Linked DNA regions of Homo sapiens. The protein of the gene in region 5 purifies or fractionates together with the protein of the main gene of each other region. This does not show direct contact. Each region holds a gene or a part of one and is shown on either strand. Other genes may lie near its edges.

Region 1 (4,477 bases), on a different chromosome or scaffold from region 5:
CTTTTTAGAAGCTCGTTATTAAATCATTGTGCATAAATTTTATACCTATAGTAATTAAACGTGAATGGCATTGCATTTCACTTTTTTTTTTTTTTGGATACAGGATCTTACTCTGTCACCCAGGGTGGAGCGCGGTGGCTTGATTATAGCTCCCTGTAACCTTCAATTCCTGGCTCAAGCGATTCTCCTGCTTCAGCCTCCCAGGTAGCTGGGATTACAAGCACGTGCTACCACACCCAGCTAATTTTTCTTTTTTCTTTTTTTTTTTTTGAGATGGAGTCTCACTCTATTGCCCAGGCTGGAGTGCAATGGCGCAACCTCGGCTTACTGCAACCTCCGCCTCCAGGGTTCAAGTGATTCTCCTGCCTCAGCCTCCCAAGTGGCTGGGATTACAGGCATGCACCGCCACGCCCGGCTGATTTTTGTAGAGATGGGTATTTTTAGTAGAGACGGGGTTTCACCAATGTTAGCCAGGCTGGTCTTGAACTCCTGCCCTTGTGATCTGCCTGCCTTGGCCTCCCAAGGTGCTGGGATTACAGGCTTGAGCCACCACGCCAGGCTCACACCCAGCTAATTTTTGTCTATGTTGCCCAGGCTGGTCTTGAACTCCTGGCCTCAAGTGATCCACCTGCCTCCCCTAACCTTGGCCTCCCAAAGTGCTAGGATTACAGGCATGAGTTACTACACTCAGCCCTACATTTTAAAAATTGATTGGAACCTCCAGGGTTAATGCATTTTAAAAAACATCAGGCTGGGTGCAGTGGCTTACATGTGTAATCCTAGTACCTTGGGAGGCCAAGGCAGGAGGACCACTTGAGTCTAGGAGTTCGAGACCAGCCTGGGCAACATGGTGAAACCCTGTCTCTACAAAAACAAAATTAAAATTAGCCAGTTGCACATGCCCGTAGTTCCAGCTACATTCCCAAGGCTGAGGCAGGAGCATCGCTTGAGCCTAGGAATTAGAGGCTACAGTGAGCTATGCTTATGCCACTGTGCTCCAGCCTGGGCAACAGACCAAGGCCGTGTCTCTAAAACAAAAACAAAACAAAAAACAGCAGGTGACACGGACCCATGAAGAAAGCCATTAAATTAAATGTTTTTAAAAAGTAGTGTACTTGGCCGAGCACGGTGGCTCACACCTATAATCCCAGCACTTTGGGAGGCCGAGGCGGGCAGATCATGAGGTCAGGAGATCGAGACCATCCTGGCCAACATGGTGAAACCCCGTCTCTACTAACAATACAAAAATTAGCTGGGTGTGGTGGTGCATGCCTGTAATCCCAGCTACTCAGGAGGCTGAGGCACGAGAATCACTTAAACCCAGGAGGCGGAGGTTGCAGTGAGCTGAGATCGCACCACTGCATTCCAGCCTGGTGACAGAGTGAGACTGTCTCAAAGAAAAAAAAAAAAGTAGTGTACTTATTAAAACTTTTTATTCTGAAAACTGTCGTAATACAAACAAGTAGGAAGAACAGTACTGTGAATACCATATCCTCACATGTAGTCTCAACACCGAAGTGCAATTACATGGGTTATGTTCTGGCACATAGAGCTGTGCAGCTGAGCTGAGTTGGTTAGAGGTGAACTATTTACTTGGAAGAGAAGGAAGCAAGGAAGGAAAGGTGGGATGAGTTCAGTAGAGTGTTTGGAGTGTTTGGTGGTAACTAGGATAGTTACTGTTTTTCCTTGTAGGTGTTTTTTTGTTTTGTTTTGTTTTGTTTTGTTTTGCGACAAGGTCTCGCTCTGTCGCCCAGGCTAGATTGGCTCACTGCAACCTCCACTTCCTGGATTCAGATGATTCTCCTGCCTCAGTCTCCCAGGTAGCTGGGGATTACAGGTGCCCACCACCATGCCCAGCTAATTTTTATTTTTATTTTTATTTTTTTGAGACGAAGTTTCACTCTTGTCACCCAGGCTGGAGTGCAATGGCATGATCTTGGCTCCCTGCAACTTCCACCTCCCAGGTTCAAGCAATTCTCCTACCTCAGCCTCCTGAGTAGCTGGGATAACAGGCATGCGCCACCACGCCTGGCTAATTTTCATATTTTTAGTATAGATGGGGTTTTACCACATTGGCCAGGCTTGAACTCCTGACCTCAGGTGATCTGCCCACCTCGGCCTCCCAAAGCGTTGGGATTACAGGTGTAAGCCACCACGCCTGGCCTTCTTAGGTGTTTATGGGATGGTCCTACCTTTGGGATTTTGTGAATTTTCAAGCAGTAAATATACACATGTCCAAATGGAGGTATTTAGATCAAAGTAAGATCTTTTTTTTTTATTTTAATGAATTTCTACATGTTTTTATTTGGTGGATAATTGAATTAGTAGACTTACGAATGTATTTATATTTATTTATTTAGAGGCAGAGTCTCTCTGTGTTGCCCAGGCTGGAGTGCAGTGGTGCGATCTTGGCTCACTGCACCCTCTGCCTCCTGGGTTCAAATGATTCTGCCTCAGCCTCCCAAGTAGCTGTGATTACAGGTGTGTGCTACCATGCCCAGCTAAGAATGTATTCATAGTTACCTTAAAATATATTTGATTTGGGCTGGGTGCGGTGGCTCACACCTGTAATCCCAGCACTTTGGGAGGCCAAGGTGGGTAGATCACAAGGTCAGGAGTTCGAGAACAGCCTGGCCAGGATGGTGAAACCCCGTCTCTACTAAAAACACAAAAATTAGCTGGGAGTGGTGGCGAGCACCTGTAATCCCAGCTACTTGGGAGGCTGAGGCAGGAAAATCACTTAAACCCAGGAGGTGGAGGTTGCAGTGAGCTGAGATTGCGCCACTGCACTTTAGCCTGGGTGACAGAGCAAGACTCCATCTCAAAAAAAAAAATGTGTGTGTGTGTGTGTGTGTGTGTGTGTGTGTGTGTATATGTATATATATATATATATATTTGATTTAGCTACTAAGAGTATGGAATTGTTCTTTTTGGTGATTTAATTGAGATGGATAATAAATTTGCTTCAGAACAGACATGCAGTGTTTCTGATGTGTGCATGTTTTATTTCCTAGGGAGCAAAGGGAGAAAGAAGAAATAGAGAAATATCGTATGGAACGCCCCAAAATCCAACAGCAGTTCTCAGACCTCAAGGTGAGCCGATGAAGCGGTGAATGGTGTGCGGTTTCTAACGCTCTCACCCTAACCCGCAGAGACTCAGACTGCTCTTACGTGGAATTTATGAGACTTTACGTTTTTAATTTAGGGGGTCATTGCTTAGAAGAAGAAAGTGTTTGCTTCAGTATGTTTAATTATATGTGTGTAAAAAAAAACCCTTCCCCTACTGTAAAAGGTAGGACAAATGAACTTATTTTCTTTGTAATTTTGACTCCATTTATACCTAAGATTTTCTTTTTTCTTTTTTCTTTTTTTTTTTGGAGGCAGTCTGGCTCTGTTGCCCTGGCTGGAGTGCAGTGGCGTGGTCTCAGCTCACTGCAACCTTCACCTCCTAGGTTCAAGCAATTCTTGTGCCTCAGCCTCCTAAGTAGCTGGGATTACAGGTGCCTGCCACCATACCCAGCTAATTTTTGTATTTTTAGTAAAGACAGGATTTCGCCATGTGTACCAGGCTGGTCTCAAACTCCTGAACTCTAGTGATCTGCCCACCTCAGCCTCCCAAAGGGCTGGGATTACAGGCGTGAGCCACCACGTCTGGCCCCATTTATACGTAAGATTTTCTAAACTGTGTCCCCTGGGCTTTGAGAGAATAATTTACATTTTAGTGAAGTTGAACAGATCCAATAAATTGATTTTTCTTTTCTTTTTCTTTTTTTTTTTTTTTTGAGACGGAGTTTGGCTCTTGTTGCCCAGGCTGGAGTGCAATGACGCGATCTCAGCTCACCGCAACCTCCGCCTCCCAGGTTCAAACGATTCTCCTGCCTCAGCCTCCCTAGTAGCTGGGATTACAGGCATGTGCCACCATGCCCGGCTAATTTTGTATTTTTAGTAGAGATGGGGTTTCTCCATGTTGGTCAGGCTGGTCTCGAACTCCCGACCTCAGGTGATCTGCCCGCTTTGGCCTCCCAAAGTGCTGGGATTAACAGGCATGAGCCACCGTGCCCGGCCTAAATTGATTTTTCTAAGTGAAGTAGAAAACTATTTTTGGGGCTGGGTACAGTGGCTCACATCTGTAATCTCAGCACTTTGGGAGGCTGAGGTGGGAGGATCACTTGAGCCCAGGAGTTTGAGACCAGCCTTGGGGAGAACCTGTCTTTACAAAAAATAAAAACTTAGCCAGGCATGGTGGCCCACGCTTGTGGTCCCAGCAACTTGAGAAGCTGAAGTGGGAGGATCACTTGAGCCTGGGAGGTTGAGGCTGCAGTGAGCTGTGATTGTGCCACTGAATCCAGCCTGGGCAACAGAATGAGACCCATCTCAAAACAAAAGTAAAAAACAGTTGCTGCATCCAAATCCCTTCTAAAGCTTGGTGATCTGGAGGCTAGGGGTGAGAGAGGGCATGGTCCTACCTGGGCACATG
Region 2 (4,477 bases), on a different chromosome or scaffold from region 5:
GAGGAAGAAAGACTGTAAGAGCAGGTTGGGGGAGCAGGGCGGGGAAAGCTCAGTACTTAGGTGTGAGTTAACGCCAGGCTTGAGATTCCCTGTTAGACATTAAGTAGAGATGCCATGTAGGAAGGTGGACATACAAACATGCCATTCAAGGGAAAAGTCCAGATTGGAGATACAAATCTGAGTCGTCATAAAGTTATTTGATAGACTGGATGAGATCCCCAGAGGAGTGAGTGTAGACAGAGAAGACGTCTGAGGAATGGAGCCCCGGGCCTGCTGACATTTGGAGGTCAGGGAGATAATGAGGAAGCAGCAGCAAAGGCTGAGAAGGGATGGTCAGTGCGGAGGAAAACCAGGGGTTCTCTGAAAGCCAAAGGAAGAGAGTATTTTAAAGAGGAGGGAATGATCGGCTGGGACAGACGGATGCAGGCAGGTCATGTGGGCTGAGGACTGGGAACTGACCTTGGGATTTCGCAAGGCAGAGGTCAGTGGTGACCTTGACAAGAGCAGTCTGTGGAATGCGAGAGGCAAAAGGATGGAAGTGGGTTTGAAGGAAAATGGGAGGAGAGGATCTGGAGACAGCAACCATGACCACCTAATTCGGGATGTGCTGCATTGGAAAGCAGGGAAAATCTGGAGGTAAATGAAGGGGGATATGGGGTCAAGAGAGAGTTTTAGGATGAAATGACATTTTATCTGTGTATGCTGATGGGGATGATCCTGTAGACAGGGAAAACTGATGGCACAGGAGAGAGAGGGCAGAATTGCCAAAGGTCTTGAGTGGTGAGAAGGGATGGGATTAGTTTCTAGTAGACAGAAACATGAACAAATCATTCGTAAGAACGGAAGGGAAGGCATCGTATATGAGTACAGATGTAGGCAGGTGGGTAGAGGGACTGCTGGGTGCTTGTTTTCCTTCACACAAATTCCAGCATGCCAACCTCTTCCTTAAGAACACAAAACCCTCCAGTGGTGAGACCGGCTACCTCCTACCATCTTACACTCTACTTCTACTAAAGTGGCCTAAGATTACATTAGCTCTTTTGGCAGCCACATATATCCTACTGGTGGTGGCTCCAAATAGCTATCAAGCCAGTTTTCTCCTGCCCCATACTGCTGAATATATTATGAATCTAACTGCAGGATTTTATATAATAATTTCTGACTGCCTGTAATTATCTCTATCCGAGTCTACAGTAGCTCAACAAGTCTAAACAAATAAAACTAAACAAATATTCTTTTATCATTGCTTTTTCTAATTTTTAATTTTTTTATTTTTTTGAGATGGAGTTTCACTCTTGTTTGCCGGGGCTGGAGTGCAGTGGCGCGATCTCAGCTCACTGCAACCTCTGCCTCCTGGGTTCAAGAGATTCTCCTGCCTTAGCCTCTGGGCATGCCACCCAGGCGCATGCCACCACGCCCAGCTAATTTTTGTATTTTTGTATTTTTGTATTTTTAATAGAGACAGGGTTTCATCACGTTGGCCAGACTGGTCTCGAACTCTTGACCTCAGGTCATCTGCCCACCTCAGCCTCCCAAAGTGCTGGGATTACAGGCATGAGCCAACGCACCCAGCCTTAGAAGGGACATCTTTCTTTCCTGTCCCCATTACCAAAATCTATGCATCTCTACTGTTATATACCTCAATATAATTAAAAAAAAAAATCTGTCCAGGTGCGGTGGCTCACACCTGTAATCCCAGCACTTTGAGAGGCTGAGGCGGGCAGATCACCTAAGGTTGGGAGTTCGAGACCAGTCTGACCAACACGGAGAAACCCCATCTCTACTAAAAATACAAAACTAGCCGGGCGTGGACGCACATGCCTGTAATCCCAGCTACTCGGGAGGCTGAGGCAGGAGAATCGCTTGAACCCGGGAGGTGGAGGTTACAGTGAGCCGAGATCATGCCATTGCACTCCAGCCTGGGCAACAAGAGCGAAACTCCATCTCAAAAAATAACAATAATAATAAATCTATGCATCTTGTGGACTAGGAGGCTATAACCCTCATTCTGCTGGAAAGAGGGTAGACCAGTACAGCCATTTTAAAGGGCAATCTGACAGTACTTAGTATAAACATATTAACTAAGTATAAATACAATAAGCATATGTAGATAGAGATATAATATCCTACAACCAGCAACTCTGCTCTTGGGAATATAACCCAAAGAAATTTTTCCACATTGCATAAAGGGACACATATGAGAATGTACACTGGATTATTAATTACGGCGAGGGAAGGCTGGTGACAGGTAACCTTGGTGTCTATCACTAAGAGAGGAATGTCACCAGGGCAAACCGAGTAGCAGTCAGTTCCCACAGACTAGATGTACACACAGCAACAGGGAGAAACCCTAAAATGCACCACTCATCATGATGCTGAGTGGGAAAAGAAACAGAACAATGCAGACAATGATACCATTTACTTAAAATACACACACACTATGCAACTCATAGAAAAAGAAACATACATAAATTACAAAGAACTGTGGTGGCAGGTATGGGAATGAGATAAATGGGAATTAACAAATTAATTAAATAACAGCAGAGCTCTCACAGCAATGACACTGAGGAGTAAGAACTAAAGAGTATGAGTGACTCAACTGTTTGTACTGAGGTAAAAACCTTCATAGGGTCTCACTCTGTTGCCCACGCTAGAGTGCAGTGGCATGACCATAGCTCACCACTACCTCAAATTCCTGGGCTCAAGCCATCCTCCTGCCTCAGTCTCCTGAGTAGCTGTGACTACTGGCATGTACCACCATGCTTGGCTAATTTTTAAATTTTTTGTAGAAATGGGGTCTCACTACATTGCCCAAGCTGGTCTCAAACTCCTCGGTTCAAGTGATCCTCCTGCCTTGACCTTCCAAAGTGCTGGGGTTATAGGTGTGAGCCACTAAGTGTTTAGCCCATTATTCTTTATTTTAAAAATTTTTTTGTTAATAGCTTTATAGAGATATAATTCACATTCCATACAATCTATCCATTTTAAGTGCATAATAGTTTTTAGTATATTCACAGAATTGTGCAACCATCACCACGATCAATTTTAGATCATTTTCATCACCCTAAAAAGAAACTCTGTTACTTACCAATTCCACCTGCCCTCACTCCCAACAAAAAAATCCTGCCTCAGCCTCCCGAGTAGCTGGGATTACAGGCGCGCACCAGCACACCCAACTAATTTTTTGTATTTTTAGTAGAGACGGTTTCACACCACGTTGGCCAGGCTGGTCTCGAACTCCTGACCTCAAGTGATCTGCCCGCTTCAGCCTCCCAAAGTGCTGGGATTACATGTGTGAGCCACCACGCCTGGCCTATTACTGGGTTTTTAGTCCCAAATTCATGTATGTTGGGATCACTTTGAATTTAGATTCTGTTATCCAATACATTAGTTTTATGTCATGTGCAAATTAGATAAACCTCTGTTCTCTATCTTTACCCAAGTCACTAATAGGCTGAATGACGGGGCACAATGGTTCCCCTATGTAATCTCAGCATTTTGGGAGGCCAAGGCAGGCAGATTGCTTGAGCCCAGGAGTTCAACACCAGCCTGAGCAACATAGTGAAACCTTGTCTCTATTTAAATATATTTTAAGTTGAAAAGGACAAGACCAAACACAGATGCCTAGGACATGTCACAAGAGCTCTGCTGGTGACCCATTAATCAAAAATCTTTGTGTCCCACTGTTCAACCAGCTGTGACCTCCTCTAATTGTATTATGATGCAGCCCATGTTCTTTTCACTAGGACATCATGAGTTACAGAGGTTAACTGGGGAAGAAGAGTGAATGGAATGAGAACAAAGGAAACCTTTCTATCAACATGGTTTGAATGAGAATGTATTCATGAATTACCTATATAATTAAAGAAAAACACACTGTAAAACCTTTTTTTTTTTTTTTTTTTTTTTTGAGATGGAGTCTCGCTGTGTCACCCAGGCTGGAGAGCAGTGGCTCGATCTCAGCTCACTGCAACGTCTACCTCCCGGGTTCAAGCAATTCTCCTGCCTCAGCCTCCTGAGTAGCTGGGATTACAGGCATGTACCACCACACCCAGCTAATTTTTGTATTTTAGTAGAGACGGGGTTTCACCATGTTGGCCAGGCTGGTCTCAAACTCCTGGGCTCAAGCGCCTCAGCCTCCCAAAATGCTGGAATTACAGGCGTAAGCCACCACACCTGACTGTAAACCTTATTTTCAAAAAGAAAAAAAAATGCTGGTTTATAAGACATCAATAAAAAACTTCAAATGTCTTGCCCAAATCAAGATACATCATGTCCACAGCATGCCCCTGACCTGTGGCTCAACCTAGTAATCCTATCAAGAGAAAATTATTTTTATAAAACTCATGCTAGCTTCCTAAGTACTCAACAGTCATTTTTTTTTTTTTTTGTTTGAGACCGAGTCTCACTCTTGTTGCCCAGGCTGGAGTACAGTGGCACAATCTTGGCTCACTGCAACCTCCGCCTCCCGTGTTCA
Region 3 (4,477 bases), on a different chromosome or scaffold from region 5:
GTTTCTGACCATATCTGTTCTCTTCCAAATACTATCAGGCCAATACTACAATTACTACCTTCTCTCAGCTGCCACAGCTTTTGCTATCTCATGGGGCCAAAACCCACCTCGTTGTTTTGGCTATCCTTGTATAATTACTCATCCATGAATCTTGAAACCAGCATCTCAAGTTCCAGACAATCTCAGGTCTGAGTTTTAGGCACAAAATGAGTTGGGCACACACTGTGGCCTAGCTGAGTCCACTTACTCACTTGGGCCCGAAGGTCAGATATGCAGATGAACTTCTTAAGCACATTCTTGGGAAGGATGTAGGTGTAGCCAGTCTCCTTGATGTCGTCAGATGAAACATAGATGTGATTGGTCCTTAGGTGCAGGTTGGCAGCAGAGATGGCCCTAAAAACAGGCAGGGAGTGTCAGCATCGCTCAGCCCAGCACCTTAGGTAGTGCAGCCGGCCTTTCCATCCCCACCCTCTTGCCCGACAGTACCTGACCCTCCACTCAGTCTTGGATGAGAAAGTCTGGGTCTCATAGTTGCTGGTGGTGGAGGTGATGATCTCATCGCCATGCTTGTTGACAGTGCGAGTCTGTGTTGCCGTCAGCTGCGATTGTTCCTTGGTCTGCTTCTCGATCTCAGCGATCTGCTGCCGCTGCTGTGACGGTGCCGAGATCTCCATACCCAGGATGATGTCTCGAATTTCTGATTGTGTCAGTGATGCCACGTTCACACTGTGGGGATGGTGTGGGTTATATTACAAGGATCCCTTCCCCTTGGTCACTTCTGCCTCAATGGAAAGGGTGTAACTTGGTAGGACAGGACAGCCTATACTCACGCCCCAGACAATCCACAAGAGCTGCTTCTACAGGAAGTGTGAAACGGAGGTGCACTAACACTTCCAAGATTCGTCAGATCCAAGCGGGACAGCACACTGCGTGTGCACCTTCCCACTGTTTAGCATCCATAAACCCTACGCTTCCTTGACCAAAACAATGCTCTGGCATGGAACTGTTCTCAGAAATGGAAACCCCAGAAACCCTAGAATACTGGTTCTTAATCAGAGGTGGTATTGTCCGTCACCCTATGGATAATTTTGGTTGCCACGATGACAGGGAGGGAGACGAGGGGAGGAAGGTGTGTGTGTGTGTTGGCAGCAGTCTCGGATACTTAGGGTCTCGGATGTTCAAAATTCTTCCCATGTATGGACAGTAAAGAAATGCCCTGTTTGAAATGGCAACAGTGAGAAACAATGGCCAAGAGTCAGACTGAAGCCCTAAAACAGGGATGCTTCCCATACTATTCGAAGACACTGCTGTATCTCTCTTCCTCGAGACTCTGTAAGATAATTTCTTTCCTTGTTTTCAAGACAAGAGTCTCGCTCTGTTACCCAGGCTGGAGTACAGTGGCATCATCATGGCTCACTGCAGCCTCAAACCCCCGGGCTCAAGCAAGCCTCCTGCCTCAGCCTCCAAGAAGCTGGGACTACAAGCGTGTACCACCACACCTGTTTTAAATTTTTTTTTTTTGGTAGAGATGGCGTCAGTCTCTTGTTGATCAGGCTGGTTTCAACTCCTGGCTCATGCAATCCTCCCACCTTGGCCTCCCAAAGTGCTGGTATTACTAGCATGAGCACTCAAGCCTGGCTAAGACAAGATAATTTCTTGAGAAACGTCTTTTTTTTTTTTTTTTTTGGAGACAGTCTCACTCTTGTCGCCCAGGCTGGAGTGCAGTGGCATGATCTCGGCTCACTGCAACCTCTGCCCCCAGGTTCAAGCAATTCTCCTGCCTCAGCCTCCCGAGTAGCTGGGATTACAGGTAGGCGCCATCGCACCCGGCTAACTTTTGTATTTTTAGTAGAGACGGAGTTTCACCACGTTGGCCAGGATGGTTTCAAACTCCTGACCTCAAATGATCTACCCACCTTGGCCTCCCAAAGTGCTGGGATTACAGGCATGAGCCACCGCGCCTGGCCTTCTTGAGAAACTTCTAAGCCTAAGTGCTTCCAAAAAACCCCAGAAAACCGTATATAGACCTCCTGTCTGTGTCCCCACCAGCACTGCTCACTTGTTTTTCTTGCCGTAGTCAGCCAAGATCAGATCCTTGAGCTGCACCTCGACCTTGATCCATTCTTCGTCAGTCAGAGTGGGCCAGATGTGGTGTGGTTCTGTAATAGTAGTCTTGTCTGGCTTCAGGATCACTTTTGCCCGATCGTTGTTCACATGTAGGGCACGCAGAATCAGGATGAGACGGGAGAAGGCCTGGGAAAAGATTTGGAAGAGTGGGGTAGGTCAGCTGCTTGAGGCTCTCCCACTTTAATCCTAACCTTTCATGAAACCCAAGAATTTTTTTTTTTTCTTTTGAGACAGAGTCTTGCTCTGTCGCCCAGGCTGGAGTGCAGTGGCATGATCTCGGCTCACTGCAAGCTCCGCCTCCCAGGTTCATACCATTCTCCTGCCTCAGCCTCCCGAATAGCTGGGATGACAGGCACCTGCCACCACGCCCGGCTAATTTTTTGTATTTTTAGTAGAGATGGGGTTTCACTGTGTTAGCCAGGATGGTCTCAATCTCCTGACCTCGTGATCCGCCGCCTCGGCCTCCCAAAGTGCTGGGATTACAGGCGTGAGCCACTGCGCCCGGCCTTTTTTTTTTTTTTTTTAGACAGTCTTACTCTGTCGCCCAGGCTGGAGTGCAATGGTGCCATCTCGGCTCACTGCAACCTCTGCCTCCTGGGTTCCAGTGATTCTGGTGCCTCAGCCTCCCGAGTAGCTGGGACTACAGGTGCATCCCAGCACACTCGGCTAATTTTGTTGTATTTTTAGTAGAGATGGGGTCTCGTCATGTTGGCCAGCCTGATCTCAAACTCCTGACCTCAGGTGATTCACCCAACTCAGCCTCCCAAAGTGCTGGGATTACGGGCGTGAGCCACCACGCCCGGCCCCAAGAGTTGATTTTTAACTTTAAGGTCTTAAACTCTCATGAAAGTCAACAGAGTTCCCACCCAATCTATAGGCTAAAAATGTGAAAATGGCAAAAACCTGACACAGGATCTTCTCCTAACCCTAAACCCGCTCCTCCTCCAGCGATCTTCTCTTCCCGAGGTTCATACCGTGTAAGATGAAATAGTCTTGAGCCAGTCGTCATAGAGGTTGAAGAGAACCATCTGGGGCTCAGTGGCTTTAAGGATGAGATCCCCGAATTTTTCCACCTTGAGACACGCCTGGAAAGGGAGTTGGAGCTCCGATCCTTTGATGACAATATTGGGGAAGTCCAGTAAGTGCACCTAAGACAAGATCAAGTCCAAGATGAGAAACAGCCTGAAGGTCTCAAGGTCTCTTTTCTCCTACCCCACCCCACCCTCTTACCTCCAGTGGGTCCAGCATGCCCTTCCTGGTGACAATGATCTGCTTGGGCTGCTCCTCCACAGGCAGAGATCGGATCAGGGCGGCCACCTCCTCAGCTGTCTTCCACTTAGCCAACTTAAAAGCAAGAGAGAAGAAAATGGAAATTTAGTCTCTACCCTCCCAGATCAACTAGAACAGAATATCCTAGTTTTGAAATAATCCAACTACGTTTCTATTGAACACTGATGTTAAATGTTAGGCACTTAGAAGGTACAAAGAGTATCAAATGGCCGTGTCCAATGACCAGGCTGACAGCCCCTTTCAACAAGACAATACCACAAGCTGACACATGAGTATGTGCTAAACTATACACTGTTTTACAGAGTTCAGGAACAAAAGAAATTAAGGCTACTAGGATCAGAAAAAAGCTGCACAAAAAAACGTGTCTTAAGGAGGGACTGTGATTAACAGAGCAAAGAGGGGAGTTCATTCTAGAAAGAAAAATACAAGCAAAACACAGATTTGGAGATGAGCATCAGGGGTTTGGGCTACTAAGATCCTGGACTGAATGTAAGATGAAACATGCTATAAATGTAAAGGAAGAGAAACTGGCTGGACAGATACAGCCCAGCCAGATGTTGAACGTCTAGGAAGCTAAAGAAGAGTTAATTCAGCAAGAGTTGTGAGGTAGAGAAGAGATTTGGTCAAAGTGGATGTTTCAAGAATATGCGTTGCTGGGCCGGGCACGGTGGCTCAAGCCTGTAATCCCAGCACTTTGAGAGGCCAAGGCGGGCGGATCACGAGGTCAGGAGATTGAGACCATCCTGGCCAACATGGTGAAACCCCGTCTCTACTAAAAATACAAAAAATTTAGCCGGGCGTGGTGGCGGGCACCTGTAGTCCCAGCTACTCGGGAGGCTGAGGCAGGAGAATGGCGTGAACCTGGGAGGCGGAGCTTGCAGTGAGCTGAAATCAGGCCACTGCATTCCAGCCTGGGCAACAGAGCAAGACTCCGTCTCAAAAAAAAAAAAAAAAAAAGAGAATATGCATTGCTGGCCAGGAGCAGTGGCTCACACCTGTAATCCGAGCACTTTGGGAGGCAGAGGCAGAGGCAGGCAGATCACAAAGTCAGGAGATCGAG
Region 4 (4,477 bases), on a different chromosome or scaffold from region 5:
TATACAGCAGATGCTCAGCAATTACCTGCTAAATCAATGAACAAATCCCTTGAGGGCAGGAACCCTGGCTAACTCACATGTATATATATTCCTCAACACTTTCAGTAGAATGTTATATATGAAGAATGCTCAAAGACATGTGTTTTTTGTTTTGTTTTGTTTTGTTTTGGCACATGCCCTGGATTTTTCCAAATAATGACATCGAATTTTCTTGGTGAAAAGTTCAAAGACTGAATGTTTCCAACCATCAGCTTTGCACAACCCACCTGGGCATCTAGCAATCCAGCTGGGCACTTTCTGCTTTGTAAATCATTGCTGGCAACAAAGCCTGGCAATTATAGAGCTCAGCTGCTGGTTGTGCTAACAATGGTCTGGACAGCCAGCAACACCGTGGCCCTCCTGTGTCTGTGCGACGCATCAACGTGCATCAGGAGGGAAGCAGCCACTGCCAGAGGCAAGTTAGCAGGCTAATGCCTCCTCACACTGCCTCACAACCCATAACCAGTACCTTTGGGGAAAATTTTCCCCACAGAGGAAGGACAAAGGGGTTTAATTTCTCTGTTATATGAAGAACCAGTAAAAGGACAGTTTTATAGCTCTTCTGAGTGGAACAGACCAGGCTCAAATCATGCGCTTGACTGACTCATTGCCATGGTTTACACAGGTCCTTCAACTGCCAGCTTTAAGTCAGATGCCTGCTCACAGGGACTCATCCAACAGTAGGTTGGCTTTAGAAAAGCGTTCTGTACCTCTGAGAAACAGGACCTCGATGAAGTCTTCACTGATGTCAATCAAGAATCCTTTCTGGGGGATTCACACTGTGTTCACTACACAAGGGCATAAGCACAGGCAGGAAACCAAGACTCAGGCCTGGGTACAAATCCTGACCTCCACCTGCCAGCTGTATGACTTCAAGTAAGTGATTTAACCATTCTCAAGTGTTCCCATTTGTAAAATGGGAATAATACCCCCATCTTACAAGGCTCCAAAGGGATTCAATGAGTGAACAGGGTCTCACTCTGTTGCCCAGGCTGGAGTGCAGTGGCACGATCATAATCATTGCTCACTATAGCCTCAAACTCCTGGGCTAAGTGATCCTCCTGTCTCAGCCTCCCAAGTGGCTAGGACTACAGGTGCACATGACCATACCTGGCCAATTTTTTAATTTTTGGAGAGACGGGGTCTCACTATATTGCCCAAGCTGGTCTTTAATTCCTGGGCTCAAGTGATCCTCCTGCCTTCACCTCCCAAAGTGTTGGGATTACAGTCATGAACCACCACGCCCAGCCCCAATATTTAACGAATGCTCGTCCCTTCTGTTACCCCGAGTGGGATTGGAAGGTTGGTGAAAGGCTGCCTTATATGGAGCAGGCCTCATGGGGGTATTACACACAGGGAGAAGAAAGAAGCTCATGGGAGGGAAAGTATGGAAACTGACAGTGGCAGCTTCTGCCTCTTCTATTCTTGAGAAAGTTACACAATGTGAGTGACAGAGGCTGTCCCAAGTACATAAAGGACTAATCTGTTTGCAAAGGGAGGAAATAGCATAGGATGAAGATTGTAAGTTGTTTGAAGCTTCTTTCCTAATTACCACTCATAATGAAAATTTAATTGCCAAGTTAAAAGCAAATTTCACTTTTTCTGTCATAGAATCTCTGCAGAAACTGGCACATTTTGTTTGAACAGGAAATCAAAGTTATTTTAATGCTTAAATGAGATCTAAGGAGCTGCAGATGTTTCACTGGGAATAACAAACTTCAAAATTCTGCTTTACTGGGTTGTAGCAATTCATGGCTACAGGGAGAAAGAAACGCTGTTTTAAGCTGAGTAAACCAAAGCAGTGGGAGGAATTCAAATCCAAGTACCCCAGTGTTAGGCACTCTGGGGACGAGGTGTAGGGAGAGGGTGGTACAGAGAGAAAATTTCTGGCATAGAGGCACTTACAATTGAGTAAGAGAGAGAAAAGCAGGAAATATCCCAAGACTAGGAAACTGAAATTTAAAAATTTTGGGGTCATGGAAGAATAGCGAGAAACAAAACACATACTGTTGCCTCAATTCTGACCCACATGTGCATCAGCTCAGTCAGAAAGACTGCTCACCTGTAAGGTGCTGGTGAGGAAGTTGTCTTGGGAGACAATGTCTACGAAGAAGTCAGCGGGGATCTCACCAAGCTGGTGGTACAGGATGGAGATGAGGTTGATGTAGAGGGTGTGGTGCTTCATCATGGCTGCTTCTGACCGGCACAGGAGGTTCAGGAGCCGCTTCCAATGCTCAAATGCCTCGTACACATTCCCCAGCAGGAAGCACACAAAAGCAAACTGGAGTTCACCTGAAAGGTGCAGAGAGGAGAAGTGATTCTGAGGGAGAGGAGGACCAGCTGACACTCTCCATCACTATTCACAAGGCCATGAATTCCACTGGACCTCAGCAACAGATGAGCTTTTATCCTTGTCACTCCTGCAGAGCCTGGCAGGAGATTTTGCACCTAACAGGTACTCAATAGATGTCTGCTGAACCGCTATGAATTCAAGCCATGGGAAACCAACCTGTGGCTTTGGATTTCTATAAAATCAGACTGCTAGAGAAGAGGTATTCCCAGTATTTGCCTGGCATTTTAAGTTTACAAAATGTGTTCATGGATATTATGCCAAGTGGATTTCAAACCTGGCTGCCCATCAGAATCACTGAGAGTCTGTTAAAAGTAAAGCTACCCAAGCTTCACCCTCAGAGGTTCTGGTGGAGGAGAGATGATGGGGCCTTCGTATCTGTAGCTCTAACAAGCTCCCCAGGTGATTCTAATGTGGATGGTCTGCTCCAGGGTCAGGAAATACTGCACTATACCATGTAACCCTCAGCCCAACTCCACAAGGCGATCAGGAAGATGGTATTTGCCTCATTTCATAGATAAGGTCAAGGGCTTGCCCAAGGCCACACATCTAATGCTTCACAATGTGGGCAACGGAAAGATAAAACAGATTCTCCATTGGGTGGGAACAGTTCTGGAACCTCCCACAAAAGAAAAATTCATGAGTACTTATTCCAGGGTCAGCCTGCCAGGCAGATTATTTTTGTTTGCTTAACCACAGGGCTCTGTGATTTAATCTCTATGAGCAGCTTGGTGGCTAAGAGCATGGGCTCTGGAGCCAAACTGCCTAGCTTCAAATCTTAGCTCTGCCACTTAGCAGCTGTGTGACCTTGGGCAAGTTACTCAATCTATTAAGGCCTCAATTTCCTTATTTGAGGGTTGTAGCAAAGATTACATGAATGGATATAGTACATGTATAGCATTTAGAATAAGACCTGGCACAAAGTAGCACTCAAAAAATATTATGTTCCCAATTTCTATCAGATGCCCATCTCAAACAGAGACCTGATGATCCAGACACCACTGTCCCTGGGCAAGTAACTGGGTCTCTGGTTACCACAGAATACTGCTCCTCATCACAGGCATTCTCTCTACTTCAAAGGTGGCTGGAAATTTAATGAGGTATACATACATGTGGGCCATAAAAAGAAGAGATGTACTCAACACCAAATACCTCTTTAAATGCATGGCGTTTGATCTGTGCCACCTCCAGAGACCTGGAAAAACTAGCTCCCTGTTCCTAAGCATACGGAACTAAGTTTGATTTGTGTGAATAGCTACCTGGTTTAGAAATTTTGGATTTCTGACCAATATTTTCAAATATAGTCAAATTTTCTTTGTATAATATAGGTTAATGATTTGCTTCTTCAGCTGGCTTTACTTGGTTTGTGAAACTAAATATTAGCCTATTATTTGCGTTTAGGACATTTATTAAATTTGTGCATTTCTGACTTTATCTAAAATTAAATTATATTTTTCAAAGAGGTGTGATGTAGATTCAAAATTATCCCTGGACAGGTGCGGTGGCAGGGATAGTCCTAGCCCTTTGAGAGGTCAGTGGAGGAGGATTGCTTGAGTTCAGGAGTTTGAGACAAGCTTGGGCAACACAGGGAGACCCTATCTCAACCAAAAATAATTAGCTGGGCGTGGTGGCACACACCTGAAGTCCCACCTACTTGGGAGGCTGAGGTGGGAGGCTCAGTTGAGCCCAGGAGGTTGAGGCTGCAGTGAGTTGTGATCATGCCACTGTACTCCAGCCCATGTCACAGAGTGAGACCTTGTCTCAAAAAAAAAAAAAAAAAAAAACCAACAAAGTTATTCCTGTAACAGACCTTTTCGCAAGATATATTTTGAAGAATTGAAATGTTTAAGAGGTAGAAAGACAGGATTTCTATTCATTTTTAAGCCAGACTTTTAAAAGTTACTTATTATACGAAAATACTAATGCATTAAGATGTACCTGTTAAAGGCTGGGTGCGGTGGCTCACGCCTGTAATTCCAGCACTTTGGGAGGCTGAGGCAGGTGGATCATGAGGTCAGGAGATCGAGACCATCCTGGCCAACATGGTGAAACCCTGTCTCTACTAAAAATACAAAACAAAATTAGCCG
Region 5 (3,720 bases):
ATGAATTCTCAGAGTAATCCTAACAGGTAGGTTCTATTAGGATTCCAATGAGGAAACTGAGGCTTAGAAAGGGGAAGGCACATAGTCATGGTCCAGAGCATGGACTGGAACCCATATGCCCCGGCTCCAATGCCAGGCTCCACCCTGTCCCCCGCTGCATCCTGCCTCCATGGGTTCCCACATTGCTGAGCACTCCAGGCAGCCCCGAGGCCTTTGTTGCACTCACGCTCAGGCTCTGGCTTCTCCGTGTCACCTACTCTCAAGGGCCGGGCCTTGGGCTCTTCTTTGTTTCTCCGTATGGGCGCGTTGAGCTCCTCATGATAAACTGGACCCAAAGAGACCAGGGGACACGTTAGAACATGAGGTTCCTAGGGATCTCAGCCCAAATAGGGGAATGGGGGCAAGACTGCTCTCCGAGGGGCTTACATCTGTTGTGCTGCACATAATTCACAGCCATGTTGGTAGGCACGAAGGAGGTCTCGCTGTCTTTCTTCTTGTTCTGCTGCTCTGCCAGCAGACGGGCCTTGGCATCCTCCGTGGAAATGATATTTTTTATTTTAGCACTATGGAGAGAAAGAAACCACACCACTTAGAAGATGATAGCACCTTACTACTCAGACATGAGTGGTGAGGCTGGCAGCCCAGCAGTACATAAGAAAATCATGTGTCCTGGGGCACAGCTCTCCACTTTATCAAGCACACTTGTAGTCACATTCTCACGGGACTCTCACGGCTGTCGGAGAACCACAGTTACTCTGCTCTTCTGATCAAGAGCAAATTGAGCTTCAGAGAAGTAAAATGCTTAAGGCTCAAAGTTTGTAAAGGCCAGAAAAGAGCCCAGAAGCCTCCCAGCTTTCTACTGTACCAGAAGATTATTCTAACAATTGTACCTCTTCCATAACAATTCCCTTTTAAAGTGGATATTTTAAGAAGGATCATGGGGAGAAGGGGTGAGTGAGCCTTTAACATGGCTCCTGCTAGAAGAAAACAGAAGAATAAAGGGCCTGATACAGCTGAACAGCTGTAACACGCTAAAGAACCACTTTTGCTTCCAGCAGTCAGGGGCCCTTACTACTCTGATCAAGCCTTCAGCGAAACTTCTAGCAACAACCTGCCAGGGACAATCTCATTTGTATTTGTAGGATTCTAAGGACACAGATAAGAACATGGGGTCTCATTACATTGCCCAGGCTGGTCTTGAACTCCTGGGCTCAAGTGATCCTCCCACCTTGGCCTCCCAAAGAGCTAGGATAACAGGCACAAGTCACCATGTCTGGCCTTTTTTTTTTTTTTTTAAAGGGTCTTACTCTGTCACCCAGACTGGTGTGCAGTGGTGCAATCATGGCTCACTGTAGCCTCAACTCCTGAGCTCAAGTGACAGCCCAGCTAATTTTTTAAATTTTTTTGAGAGACAGGAGTCTGACTATATTTCTCAGGCTGATCTCCTGGCCTCACGTGATCCTCCTGCCTTGGCCTCCCAAGTACTGGGATTATAGGCTTATAGGCATCAGCCACCATACCTGTCCCCCATAAATTTTTTTTTCCTTTTTTTTTGAGATGGAGTCTTGCTCTGTCGCCAGACTGGAGTGCAGTGGCATGATCTCGCCTCACTGCAACCTCCACCTTCAGGGTTCAAGCAATTTCCTGCCTCAGCCTCCCAAGTAGCTGGACTACAGGTGCCTGCCACCATGCCCAGCTAATTTTTGTATTTTTAGTAGAGACGGGGTTCGACCATCTTGGCCGGGCTGGTCTTGAACTCCTGACCTCGTGATCCACCCGCCTCAGCCTCCCAAAGTGCTAGGATTACAGGCATGAGCCACCGTGCCTGGCCTGTCCCCCATAACTTTTAACTGGAAAGCACTGTGTCTTCTGCCTAGGGGTCTCAAACATACTCGATGCCCAGGTCCACCTCAGGAATGCCACTCAGCATCTGGTTGGAAAGCATCTCCTCGGTCTTCTTTGCTGAGGAAACACGGATGTTTTCTGGAAGTTCATAAAGACAGTCCTCTGCATTCTTTGGCTTAACTTTCTGTTCCTCATGTTCCACGATCCCTTTCCTCTTCTTTAGCTCTGTCTCAATGTACTTCATCCTGAAGTGAGAAACCCAGAGGCCTCAGGGAGGGGTGGGAAACACACACCAGGTGTCCTCTAAATCAGTGGTCCCCAACACTGGCCCGCAGACCAGTGACAGTCCATGGAGAAACGAGAAAAAAAATAACTTGAGTTTTTTCATCAAGTTAGAAATTTTCTAAAGAAGCACCAACCTATGAGGTTATGTCCCACTAATCTATTGGTGTTATGATGTACAAGGTTCTTTGAAGACAGAAAGATGATAGTTTGCCAATAGCTTTGTTGGCAAAATAAAAAGTGGGCAAGCCCATGTTTTATCCCTGCAATGTTTTGGGGAAATATTACTAGTCATGAAACCACCTTTGAAAACAAGTTTTTATTTTTTATATTTTGGAGACGGAGTTTCACTCTTGTTGCCCAGGCTGGAGTGCAATGGCGAGATCTTGGCTCGCCGCAAGCTCTGCCTCCCAGGTTCAAGCAATTCTCCTGCCTCAGCCTCCCGAGTAGCTGGGATTACAGGTGCCCACTACCACACCCAGCTAATTTTGTATTTTCAGTAGGGACGGGGTTTCTCCATGTTGGTCAGTCTGGTCTCGAACTCCCCACCTCAGATGATCCACCTGCCTCGGCCTCCCAAAGTGCTGGGACTACAGGTGAGAGCTACCGTGCCCGGCCTGAAAAGACCTTTTAAGAGGTTTTCAAAGTTCTTAAGCTGGGAAGTAGAAAGAGAGGGGCCAACTTTGACATCTTCTAGAAAATTCTAGAAATGTCATCTGTTGACTAAATATCTTGGACTCTGACTGGAGTCCAGCCCCAACTGCTCACAGCCAAACAGACTGACACTTACATGTCTGCATCCTCATCCCTTCGGTTGGTTTCTGCAGAAAACGATGTCCCCAGGTGCAGGTCCTCCTCCTCACTGATCCTGGAGGGAGAGAACAATGAGGCAGAGCTTTCAAGTCACAACTCAATGAGGCTGAGTTTTATGTTCTAAGAAGAAAACAAAGACATAAGCATTTATAATATCCTATTTACAGTTGGCAAAAAAAAAAAAATGCCGTAGTATATGTAAAGAAAAGAAACTCTAGAAATATATGCAAGCAAACTGTTGGCTGCTAGTGATACCTCCAAGGATTGAGTGGATACACTTATCCTTAGGTATCCATGGGGGATTGGTTCTAGTGTCCCTCAAGGATACCAAAATCTGCAGATAGTGAAGTCCCTTACATAAAATAGTATAATATCTGCATCTAACCTACACACACACTACCATCTGCTTTAAATCATCTCTAGATTACTTATAATACCAAATACAATGTAAATGCTATATAGTTGTCACAAAAGTACACAGTAAACTTTTATTTTTTTAATTTTTGAATTATTTGAATGTTTGATTTATTAATTTATTGAGACGGAGTCTCACTCTGTCACCCAGGCTGAAGTGCAGTGGCGCAATCTCAGCTCACTGCAACCTCTGCCTCCCGAGTTCAAGCAATTCTCCTGCCTCACCCTCCTGAGTAGCTGGGATTACGGGTGCCCACCACAATGCCCGGCTAACTTTTGTATTTTTAATAGCGACAGTGTTTCACCATGTTGGTCAGGCTGGTCTCGAACTCCTGACCTCAGGTAATCCGCCTGCCTCAGCCTCCT
Region 6 (4,477 bases), on a different chromosome or scaffold from region 5:
GGTCCAGTAAATACACTGGAAAATCTTTGGGCTGGAATCAGGTTGGGAAAGATCCCAAGGGGAAAAATACAAGGGAGGATGATAAGTTGGGAAAATAGCAATGGGATAGAAGGGAAAAACATCACAAATAAAAGGTGCACTGTTGGGAAACTGGGAAAGCTTCCTGCTGGCCAGGAGGATTTGACCTGTGTCAAGTATACATCAACAGCCTGACCTATACCAGGTCTACTTTCATGGTCAAAGAACTGATCACTCTGGCCATAGGGAAGAGATCCAAGTTCTGTCACTGACTGTAAGAAGAGACTCAGATGAAGCATGCTTTTAGCAGTTAGTGTTTTTTTTTTTTGTTTTTTTTTTTTCTGAATGGAGTCTTGCTCTGTTGCCCAGGCTGGAGTGCAGTGGTATGATCTCTGCTCACTGCAACCTCCGCCTCCCAGGTTCAAGTGATTCTCCTGCCTCAGCCTCCCAAGTAGCTGGGATTACAGGTGTGTGCCATCACACACAGCTAATTTTTGTATTTTTAGTAGAGATGAGGTTTCACCATGTTGGCTGGGCTGGTCTCGAACTCTTGACCTCAAGTGATCCACTCGCCTTGGTCTCCCAAAGTGCTGGGATTACAGGCGTGAGCTACAGCCTCTGTACCCAGCCATTTTTTAGGTTTTGACTGTTAGCTGTAGCCATTCTACTGCTTGAGAAGGTCAAATTTGGCTGCCAGTATTTTTGCCAGAGATAACCAATGAGAGTATTGGGATGGGGTGAGAAAAGTCAGAGTTGTTATAAAATGGCTTGTTTTCGTGTTGGTGCTAGAAGAGGGTAGGGAGGCCTACACTGAGTTACGAGCCATACTTTTGGGGAAAAAGACTGCTATGGATGTGGTGACTCTGGAGCATGAAAATGATTAGAATTTGGAGAGGAGACTGCATTATGTCTTTTTTTTTTTTTTTGAGATGGAGTTTCGCTCTTGTTGCCCAAGATGGAGTGTGATGGCGTGATCTCAGCTCACCACAACCTCTGCCTTCCAGGTTCAGGCAATTCTTCTGCCTCAGCCTTCCAAGTAGCTGGGATTACAGGCATGCACTACCACGCCCGGCTAATTTTTTGTATTTTTAGTAGAGATGGGGTTTCTCCATGTTGGTCAGGCTGGTCTCGAACTCTTGACCACAGGGATCCACCCGCCTCAGCCTCCCAAAGTGCTGGGATTACAGGCATGAGCCACCGCATCCGGCTGAGACTGCATTATTTCTTAGGATGAATGTTTTTTCCTGAAACCCCTTCATGTGAGGAAGACTGACGGAAGACTTTGCCATCTATTGAGCTCTTTGCTGGTAAGGATGTGAGTTGTTGGTGTTTGCCTAGGTCACCTATAGTAACAAGTCTTGAGTGCTGCACTGATGGTTAGGAGTTTGCTTTCACCATACGGCTCAGTCTCAAAAAAAAAAAAAAAAGAAGAAGTAATAGTGGAAAAAGGCAACTGGCCAGGGAGTTCCTGTGGCAGGAGGGCACTGACCACTGTGCTGGATGCACTGGTCCTTCCAGCAGAGGACAGAGAGAAGGAAGTGGTGGGGTTGTCCAGTTTAGAGCCCAGACAAGATGACTTCCCTGGCCAGCCCTCCTTCAGCAGGACCATTAAAGGGTCTCCTTGCTAAAAGGTGGACACATAGTGTTAATTAAAGCCAGAAAGCCCAGGAGTTTATGAAGCCCATCTCATGATGATTGCAACCATCGCACAGAGGCCTTTCTTGGAACCCTAACTTTATACCCTGAAATCCCCCAAAATATGTTTCATGGATCCAACATTCATTCATTCACTCTTTTCCCCTTCTGAGCATTTACCATAAATCAGGACCTGTTCTGAGAGCTAGGGATGCATATAGTTATGAGACAATCGACCTTGAGGATCTTTTTTTTTTTTTTGAGATGGAGTCTTGCTCTGTCACCCAGACTGGAGTGTAGTGGTGCAGTCTCAGCTCACTGCAGCCTCCGCCTCCTGGGTTCCAGCAATTCTCCTGCCTCAACCTCCCAGGTAGCTGGGATTACAGGCATGCACTACCACACTTGGCTATTTTTTGTATTTTTAGTAGAGACGGGGTTTCACCATGTTGGTCAGGCTGGTTTCGAACTCCTGACCTCAGGTGATCCGCCCACTTCGGCCTCCCAAAGTGCTAGGATTACAGGTGTGAGCCATCATGCCCAGCTGACCTTGAGGATCTTAGTAGGGAAGGCTGATTCACGGATAATTGCCATGGCTTGTGAAACATACTTTAATAAAGGTGTGGCAAAGCTCAAGGACACAGTGGAAGGAATGTGTAGTTCTGCTATGGGGAGTCATGGGAAGAGGCAGAGAAGGTTCTACAAAGGAGAAAACACTTGGTCGGAGTCTTCAAGAGAGGAAATCTAGAGAGAGCACATGTAAAAGCATGGAGAGGTATAATGGCACGGTATGTATGAGGAATTCTAAGTCTTTTGGTACACTCAAGGAGTAGTGCATATACCTGTCATTTAATTATATGTAATTCTCACAATTCTCCAAGGTAGCTATTATTGTCCCAATTGTCTAATTAAGAAAATCTGGGGCTGGGCGCAGTGGCTCATACCTGTAATCTCAGCACTTTGGGAAAGTGAGGTGGGTGGCTTGCTTGAGGCCAGGAGTTCAAGACCAGCCTGGGTGACATTGCAAAACCCTGTCTCTACTAAAAACACAAAAATTAGCCAAGGGTGGTGGTGTGCCCCTGTAGTCTCAGCTGCCCGGGAGGCTGAGGCACAAGAACCACCTGGATCCAGGAGGAGGAGGCTGCAGTGAGCTGAGATAGCACTACTGTACTCCAGCCTAGGCGACAGAGCAAGACTCTGTCTCAAAAAATTAAAATTAAAAAAAAAAAAAAAAAAAAGGAAAATCTGAGGGCTTAATGATTAAAAATTTCACTTGGTGCACAGCCACTAAGTTGAGTTGAGATGTGAACTGAGGTCTGTTTGATTCTAAAGCCCAAAAGGAAGGCATATGACTTTAAAAAAGGGAAGGGGGAAGAAACTGAAGAAGGAAATGATGTGGCGTCTACAGAGTTGGTGGGGTTAATTCCTTCAGCAACTCCCCTCCCCACCTTATTTTAGGTTTAGGAATAATACCAAAAGCAATCAGTCATTTTAATTTTTATTATTATTTTTAAGACAGGGTCTCCCTCTGTCACCCAGGCTAGAGTGCAGTGGTGCGATCTCAGCTCACTGCAGCCTTGACCTCTCAGGCTCAAGCAATCCTCCTGCCTCAGCCTCTTGAGTAGCTGGGACAACACGTGTGTGCCACTGTGCCTGGCTAATTTTTAATTTTTTTGTAGAGATGGGTTCCTGCTATGTTGTCTAGGCTCAAGCGATCCTCACATTTCAGCCTCCCAAAGTGTTGGGATTATTGGCATGAACCACTGTGCCTAGGCTTCAAGAATCACTGTACAGTATTGGTGCCAACCTGGGCCATTAGATCTATTGATATGTTTTCAAGGTTTTGAGATTAAGGGTGCATACATGTATAAGCTTATCTATAAGATTAATTTCTAGAAATGAAACTGTTAAGTCAAAGTAAAAAAATTTGACAGTGATGCCAGGTGCGGTGGCTTACGCCTGTAATCCCAGCACTTTGGGAGGCTGAGGTGGGCAGTTCTCCTGAGGTCGGGAGTTCGCAACCAGCCTGACCAACATGGAGAAACGCCATCTCTACTAAAAATACAAAAAATTAGCTGGGCGTGGTGGCACATGCCTGTAATTCCAGCGACTCAGGAGACTGAGGCAGAAGAATCGCTTGAACCCGGGAGGCGGAGGTTTCAGTGAGCTGAGATTGCACCATTGCACACCAGCCTGGGCAACAAGAGTGAAACTCCGAAAAAAAAAAAAAAATTGACAGTGATGTCAACTGCTCTCCAAAGATGGCTTTATCAATTTATGTTCTCGCCCGCAGTGTACGTATGTGCTTGTTTCCCACATCCTCACCAGCCTTTGGCATTATCAGTGCTGGTGTGAGAAGTAAAAATGGAATCTGTGATTGTAATCTGGTTTACCTTTGGCTTCAATCCTCTGGCCACTTCCAATCAAGCAGTCCTTGATGTCTGCACCCTTCTCGATCACAGCATTGTTGCAGATGACACTGCCTTGGATATTGCTTCTGTAACACAGTAGCCAAGTTAGGGAGGACCCAAGGCTCGCATCACCATCCTCATTACTATTGGTTGGGGGTTCTGGCTCCTCCCTAGGCCAGGAACAGCTGGGCAGTCCAGTTAATGGCTACGTGCCTCAAGTTATCAGTGGAAGACAGAATGGTAAGCCAAGGGAGGACCTGGCTTCAGAGAAATCCAGATTTGGGACTATGCTCATAACGATCTTTCTCTAAGGCCTGAAAAGAAGATATTCTGACTTCACTTCAGTTCCTTTTTTTTTTTTTTTTTTTGAGACAGGGTCTCACTGTGGCCCTGGGGCTGGAGTGCAGTGGTGTGAT
Region 7 (4,477 bases), on a different chromosome or scaffold from region 5:
TGGGCATGGTGGTGGGCACCTGTAGTTCTAGCTACTTGGGAGGCTGAGGCAGGAGAATGGCATGAACCTGGAAGGCAGAGCTTGCAGTGAGCTGAGATTGTGCCACTGCACTCCAGCCTGGGTGACAGAGCGAGACTCCATCTCAAAAAATCCTCCCACCTCAGTCTCCTGAGTAGGTGGGACTACAGGTGTGTACCACTATGCCCTATTTTTTAATTTTTTGTAGAGGGTCTCATTATGTTGTCCAGGCTGGTCTTGAACTCCTGGATTCAAGGGATCCTCCTGCCTCAGCCTGCCAAAGTGCTGGGATTACAGGCATGAGCCACTGCACCCAGACTCACTATAACTATTTAAGAGATATAATGCACTATGGACAAAGCAGGGGGAAGGAGGGACTGACATTCAGACCAGCTATGTGCAAGGCATCATGTACATGCAACATGCAGTCCACAAAATGTAATACAGTGAATAATGACATTGAGAGTTAAAAACTAGTGCTGAAATAATATTTGAGCAGGAACTCCAAGTTACTTACTCTTCACAGTGGGTTTCCTAGGATCATAGGAAACAGTGCTGCTGACCACTGGTGCCAAGTGGGCACTGCTGGTGCTTGGGCCATCATAGGCCGGCTCCTCAGGGCTGGGGTTAAAGCTGATGCTACTGGCGGAAGCATGGCTGCTTCCCATGGGGTACGGGGCTGGCTTGATCCTGCAACACAGGACAACACTGGTTAGGCATGAGCACAAGAAATCTGCCCTGAGCATGAACAGCCTGAAGCTGGCCTGTGTGAGGATGACTCACCCTGTTTGTGGCTTTGACCAATGGACCCTATCACCCTGGATTCTGGTGGTGGCTCAGAGATGTCTCCATTATCCTTTCAGAAAAAATGATAATCTCAACTAACTTTTCACTGTTTTGGTATAAATCTGTATTTTGAAAAGGCTAATGTGGCTTAGACAAAATAACAATCATTGCAGAAATGTGTTTTTTGTTTAGATGGGAAAAGGGAAAGCATAAGGGAATGTTTCCCATAAGCCAGGCTTTGCTCTCCATTTAATCTTGACTACCCTAGGGCAGGGGTAATTATCACCTTGCACTGCAGTCCAAGAAGCGGAGGCTGAGGGAGGTGAGGGAAGTGCTGAGCTGATGAGGTCTGCCTCCAGAGCCCACAGTCTGCACTGCCTCACTTTCACCAAAAGCAATTTGCTTCCTGCCGCTATGGCTACCTCTAAGGGTTGATAGCACACAAAAGCCAGGTAAGAACACAGATCTTACTTGATTTTCTCAGGGACAGCTGCTCCTCCCGTTCCAAACTTTTCCTGCCTCCTCCGGACGTCACGAGGTGGCTTGGCCACAGAGTTGACAAAGGCCATCTTTGCTTGTCGGCCTGTGGAATTATGGAGATGAACATCTGCCTTCTTGAGCAGAGATGCTACTGTTATTTAAATAATCCACGGGCTTTTTGAGTGCCCTGAAACCCCACTTGTAGGGTAGAATGGGCGGTGGCAGAAGAAATACCCACCCTGCTACCTGATGTAGGGGCAAGCAGTCCTACACCAGCCAAGCCCACCAACACCCTGCTATTGACCAGAACACTCATCCTGCCAGTTCTCCCCCAGCTCTCCCGTCTCTGTTACCTTTGGGCTTATTGGCATGTGCGAACTGGATATTCTTTGTTAGTACTCGTAGCCGCTGCTCTCGGGCGTCCTGAAGCCGCAGGTACATCTCTCGCCACGACTCATACTCTTCGGGTCTTTCTTCCTTAAAGTCTCGGTGACAATGAACTTTCCATAATTGATCTGTTTCTTCAATTAATACCTGAAACCAGAACCAGGACATCATTTGTGTACAAGCACTTTTCCATATTTTTTTTTTTTTTTTGAGACAGAGTCTTGCTCTGTCGTGTAGACTGCAGTGCAGTGGTGCAATTTTGGTTCACTGCAACCCTTGCCTCCTGGGTTCAAGCGATTCTCACGCCTCAGCCTCTCAAGTAGCCAGGACTACAGGTGCTTACCACCACGCCCAGCTATTTTATATTTTCAGTAGAGATGGGGTTTTGCCATGTTGTCCAGGCTGGTCTCGAACTCCTGACCTCAGATAATCCGCCCACCTTGGCCTCCCAGAGTGCTGGGATTACAGGCGTGTGTCACCATGCCCAGCCTCATATCTTTTTCTGATTATTTAATTACCTAGGAGTGACCAGTTTCCCAAAAATTTTTTGGTCTTCATCTTAGTAGTATGTTAAAATACCACAATTCTAGGAAAAAAATAACTCCCTAAATTTTAAAAATGCGAAGTGTGAGGCACTATGCTAGTTGCTTTTGGTGGCTGTGACAGAATATCACAAAAATCTGTGTAACATCAGTCTTTTCCTTTAGAAAATCAGCAAAGGGTAGAACTGCGATCAAGTCAAATCAGGTACTTCCCAACACTACGCTGAACTGTGATGGCAAAGGGGCAACCTAAGAAGGATGTTAAGTTATTGGCCAGGCGCGTTGGCTCATGCCTGTAATCCCAGCACTTCAGGAGGCCAAGAGTCTGAGAGTCCATCTCTCTAAAAAATAAAAATATTAGCCAGCTGTGGTGGTATGTGCCTGTAGTCCCAGCTACTTGGGAGGATCACTTAAGCCCAGGAGTTCAAGGATGCAGTAAGCCATGATTAGGCCTCTGTACTGCAGTCGAAGCAACAGAGGTAGACCCTATCTCCAAAAAAAAAAAAAAAGGTGTTAGGTCATAGAACTTTCAGAATTAAAGAGAGACAGCTGATGCAATCAAATGTGTATACCCTACATCCTAAGGAGGATTCTGGATAAATCTTGATGTTTCTTAAGAGACATCCAGCCAATCACCAGATGTCAGAGTGTCAACACAAAGTGCTTTCCCCGCCCTGGGTCCCAGCTACTCTGCTGCCAGAATTCTCCCTTTACCTTCATGACTAGGCAAGCTCAAGGGAGATGTTAAGTGTTTTTCTTCTCCCTTTGAATCCCACCCTGATCCTAGCCCAAGAGGCCCACTTAAGGTGCCAGGAGCAAGTGCTAATAACATGCTTGTTTAAAGGCCCAGTGGCAAACCAAATATATCCAGAACAATGCTCTGACCACTGATCTGCCCTTCAGCCACAGCGGAGTCACAGGGACAAAGCTATTTCTGGAGGTACAAGCCAGAAAACTGCCCTCTTCCCACCCAAACAGAATACTCACATGATTGTATTCCTCTATGCGATACAGCTGATCAGGTGTACACCTCTCCAAAACGGGTTCAAGAACAGAGTATGGGACTCCTCCCACTTCAAAGATTGCTGCAGAGAAACCAAAGGTGAAGACACTGAGTAGCAGCCAAGCCACCCAGTGATAAGGTCCAAGTGCTACAATGTGCTTGAGAGCTAGAGAGAAGCGTGTGACTTACAATCGATGTTGTTTTTAAGTACTCGGATGCATTGCTGGTGCAAGGTCATCATTTTAGGGAGATAGGCACACTTGGAACCAGAATACACCTGCATCTTGGAATTCATTCTGCGCCCAGTAAATCCAGCTTCTTCTTCTTCCTGGGGTGAAGAGAACGCTATAGGGCAAGAAAAACACAAAAGGCCCTAAGTGATCCAGTGAAAACTCTCCTTCTACCCCCTTCAGCCTCCTACTTCCCTTTCCCAATGGCAATCCACGCTACAGATTTTTGTAGATCCTTCCAGAGAATTTAAAAATAAGCTCCTGTAATCCCAGCACTTTAGGAGGCCAAGGCACATGAATCATCTGAGGTCAAGAGTTCGAGATCAGCCTGCCCAACATGCACCTGTAGTCCCAGCTACTCAGGAGGCTGAGGCAGAGGAATTGCTTGAACCTAGGAGGTGGAGGCTGCAGTGAGCCAAGATGGAGCTACTGCACTCCAGCCTGAGTAACACAGCAAGACTCTCAACAGCAACAACAAAAAAAAGCAAATGTATCTTATTCCTTTTAAGCCAATGAATCAATTAATAACATACTCACTACATACATTGCTTTTTTTCATTTGCCACATCTGAGAGATCATTCCATGTCAGTGCATAGACTTTCCACATTTTTTTTTTACTGTGGCATAGGATGCCACTGTGTAGATGAACCATGATTTATCTGTTAGTCTCCTGCTGATAGACCCTTATGTGGCTTCTACTTCTTTTGCTATGAAAATTAGACATTTTTTTCTTTCAGACAAAAATCCTATGTAACACATAGGATAAAGGGCTGCTAATAACAGCAGCAGCAATTTACTGAACAATTACTATGTGATAAACCCAGAGCAAAAAGGCATCACTTCTGAATTCATTAAACTGAGCCCTATGGGGCAGATACCATTATAACTCCCATTTACACAATATATACAACTAAGGTCCAAAGAAATTAAGATATTTCTCAAGGTCATATAACTTGCAGAAACCAGAGTTGGGATTCAAACCCAAGCCATCAAACTTCAGAGTCTATGCACTTAGGAAATGCATCAAAAA

Evidence for each region.
Region 1: the proteins of C9orf78 (region 5) and PRPF6 purify together in Homo sapiens (affinity purification with mass spectrometry; 2 studies listed by BioGRID and IntAct, with this or other methods). This does not show direct contact.
Region 2: the proteins of C9orf78 (region 5) and EFTUD2 purify together in Homo sapiens (affinity purification with mass spectrometry; 3 studies listed by BioGRID and IntAct, with this or other methods). This does not show direct contact.
Region 3: the proteins of C9orf78 (region 5) and PRPF8 purify together in Homo sapiens (affinity purification with mass spectrometry; 4 studies listed by BioGRID and IntAct, with this or other methods). This does not show direct contact.
Region 4: the proteins of C9orf78 (region 5) and AAR2 purify together in Homo sapiens (affinity purification with mass spectrometry; 3 studies listed by BioGRID and IntAct, with this or other methods). This does not show direct contact.
Region 6: the proteins of C9orf78 (region 5) and EIF2B3 purify together in Homo sapiens (affinity purification with mass spectrometry, with the first as the bait; one large-scale study listed by BioGRID). This does not show direct contact.
Region 7: the proteins of C9orf78 (region 5) and ELOA purify together in Homo sapiens (affinity purification with mass spectrometry, with the first as the bait; one large-scale study listed by BioGRID). This does not show direct contact.

What each region holds. Positions count from the first base shown.
Region 1 is NC_000020.11:63,990,393-63,994,869, forward strand, and holds part of PRPF6 (pre-mRNA-processing factor 6), read left to right. Parts: intron 1-3,014; coding exon 3,015-3,093; intron 3,094-4,477. UniProt on the Homo sapiens protein: Involved in pre-mRNA splicing as component of the U4/U6-U5 tri-snRNP complex, one of the building blocks of the spliceosome.
Region 2 is NC_000017.11:44,888,746-44,893,222, forward strand, and holds part of EFTUD2 (116 kDa U5 small nuclear ribonucleoprotein component), read right to left. Parts: intron 1-4,477. UniProt on the Homo sapiens protein: Required for pre-mRNA splicing as component of the spliceosome, including pre-catalytic, catalytic and post-catalytic spliceosomal complexes. Component of the U5 snRNP and the U4/U6-U5 tri-snRNP complex, a building block of the spliceosome.
Region 3 is NC_000017.11:1,653,291-1,657,767, forward strand, and holds part of PRPF8 (pre-mRNA-processing-splicing factor 8), read right to left. Parts: intron 3,472-4,477; coding exon 3,358-3,471; intron 3,276-3,357; coding exon 3,102-3,275; intron 2,254-3,101; coding exon 2,060-2,253; intron 727-2,059; coding exon 487-726; intron 394-486; coding exon 252-393; intron 1-251. UniProt on the Homo sapiens protein: Plays a role in pre-mRNA splicing as core component of precatalytic, catalytic and postcatalytic spliceosomal complexes, both of the predominant U2-type spliceosome and the minor U12-type spliceosome.
Region 4 is NC_000020.11:36,242,551-36,247,027, reverse strand, and holds part of AAR2 (protein AAR2 homolog), read right to left. Parts: intron 2,332-4,477; coding exon 2,102-2,331; intron 1-2,101. UniProt on the Homo sapiens protein: Component of the U5 snRNP complex that is required for spliceosome assembly and for pre-mRNA splicing.
Region 5 is NC_000009.12:129,828,979-129,832,698, forward strand, and holds part of C9orf78 (splicing factor C9orf78), read right to left. Parts: intron 2,996-3,720; coding exon 2,918-2,995; intron 2,091-2,917; coding exon 1,893-2,090; intron 564-1,892; coding exon 427-563; intron 326-426; coding exon 227-325; intron 1-226. UniProt on the Homo sapiens protein: Plays a role in pre-mRNA splicing by promoting usage of the upstream 3'-splice site at alternative NAGNAG splice sites; these are sites featuring alternative acceptor motifs separated by only a few nucleotides. May also modulate exon inclusion events.
Region 6 is NC_000001.11:44,853,661-44,858,137, forward strand, and holds part of EIF2B3 (translation initiation factor eIF2B subunit gamma), read right to left. Parts: intron 4,148-4,477; coding exon 4,044-4,147; intron 1-4,043. UniProt on the Homo sapiens protein: Acts as a component of the translation initiation factor 2B (eIF2B) complex, which catalyzes the exchange of GDP for GTP on the eukaryotic initiation factor 2 (eIF2) complex gamma subunit.
Region 7 is NC_000001.11:23,753,184-23,757,660, reverse strand, and holds part of ELOA (elongin-A), read right to left. Parts: intron 3,562-4,477; coding exon 3,406-3,561; intron 3,299-3,405; coding exon 3,201-3,298; intron 1,819-3,200; coding exon 1,638-1,818; intron 1,388-1,637; coding exon 1,276-1,387; intron 709-1,275; coding exon 536-708; intron 1-535. UniProt on the Homo sapiens protein: SIII, also known as elongin, is a general transcription elongation factor that increases the RNA polymerase II transcription elongation past template-encoded arresting sites.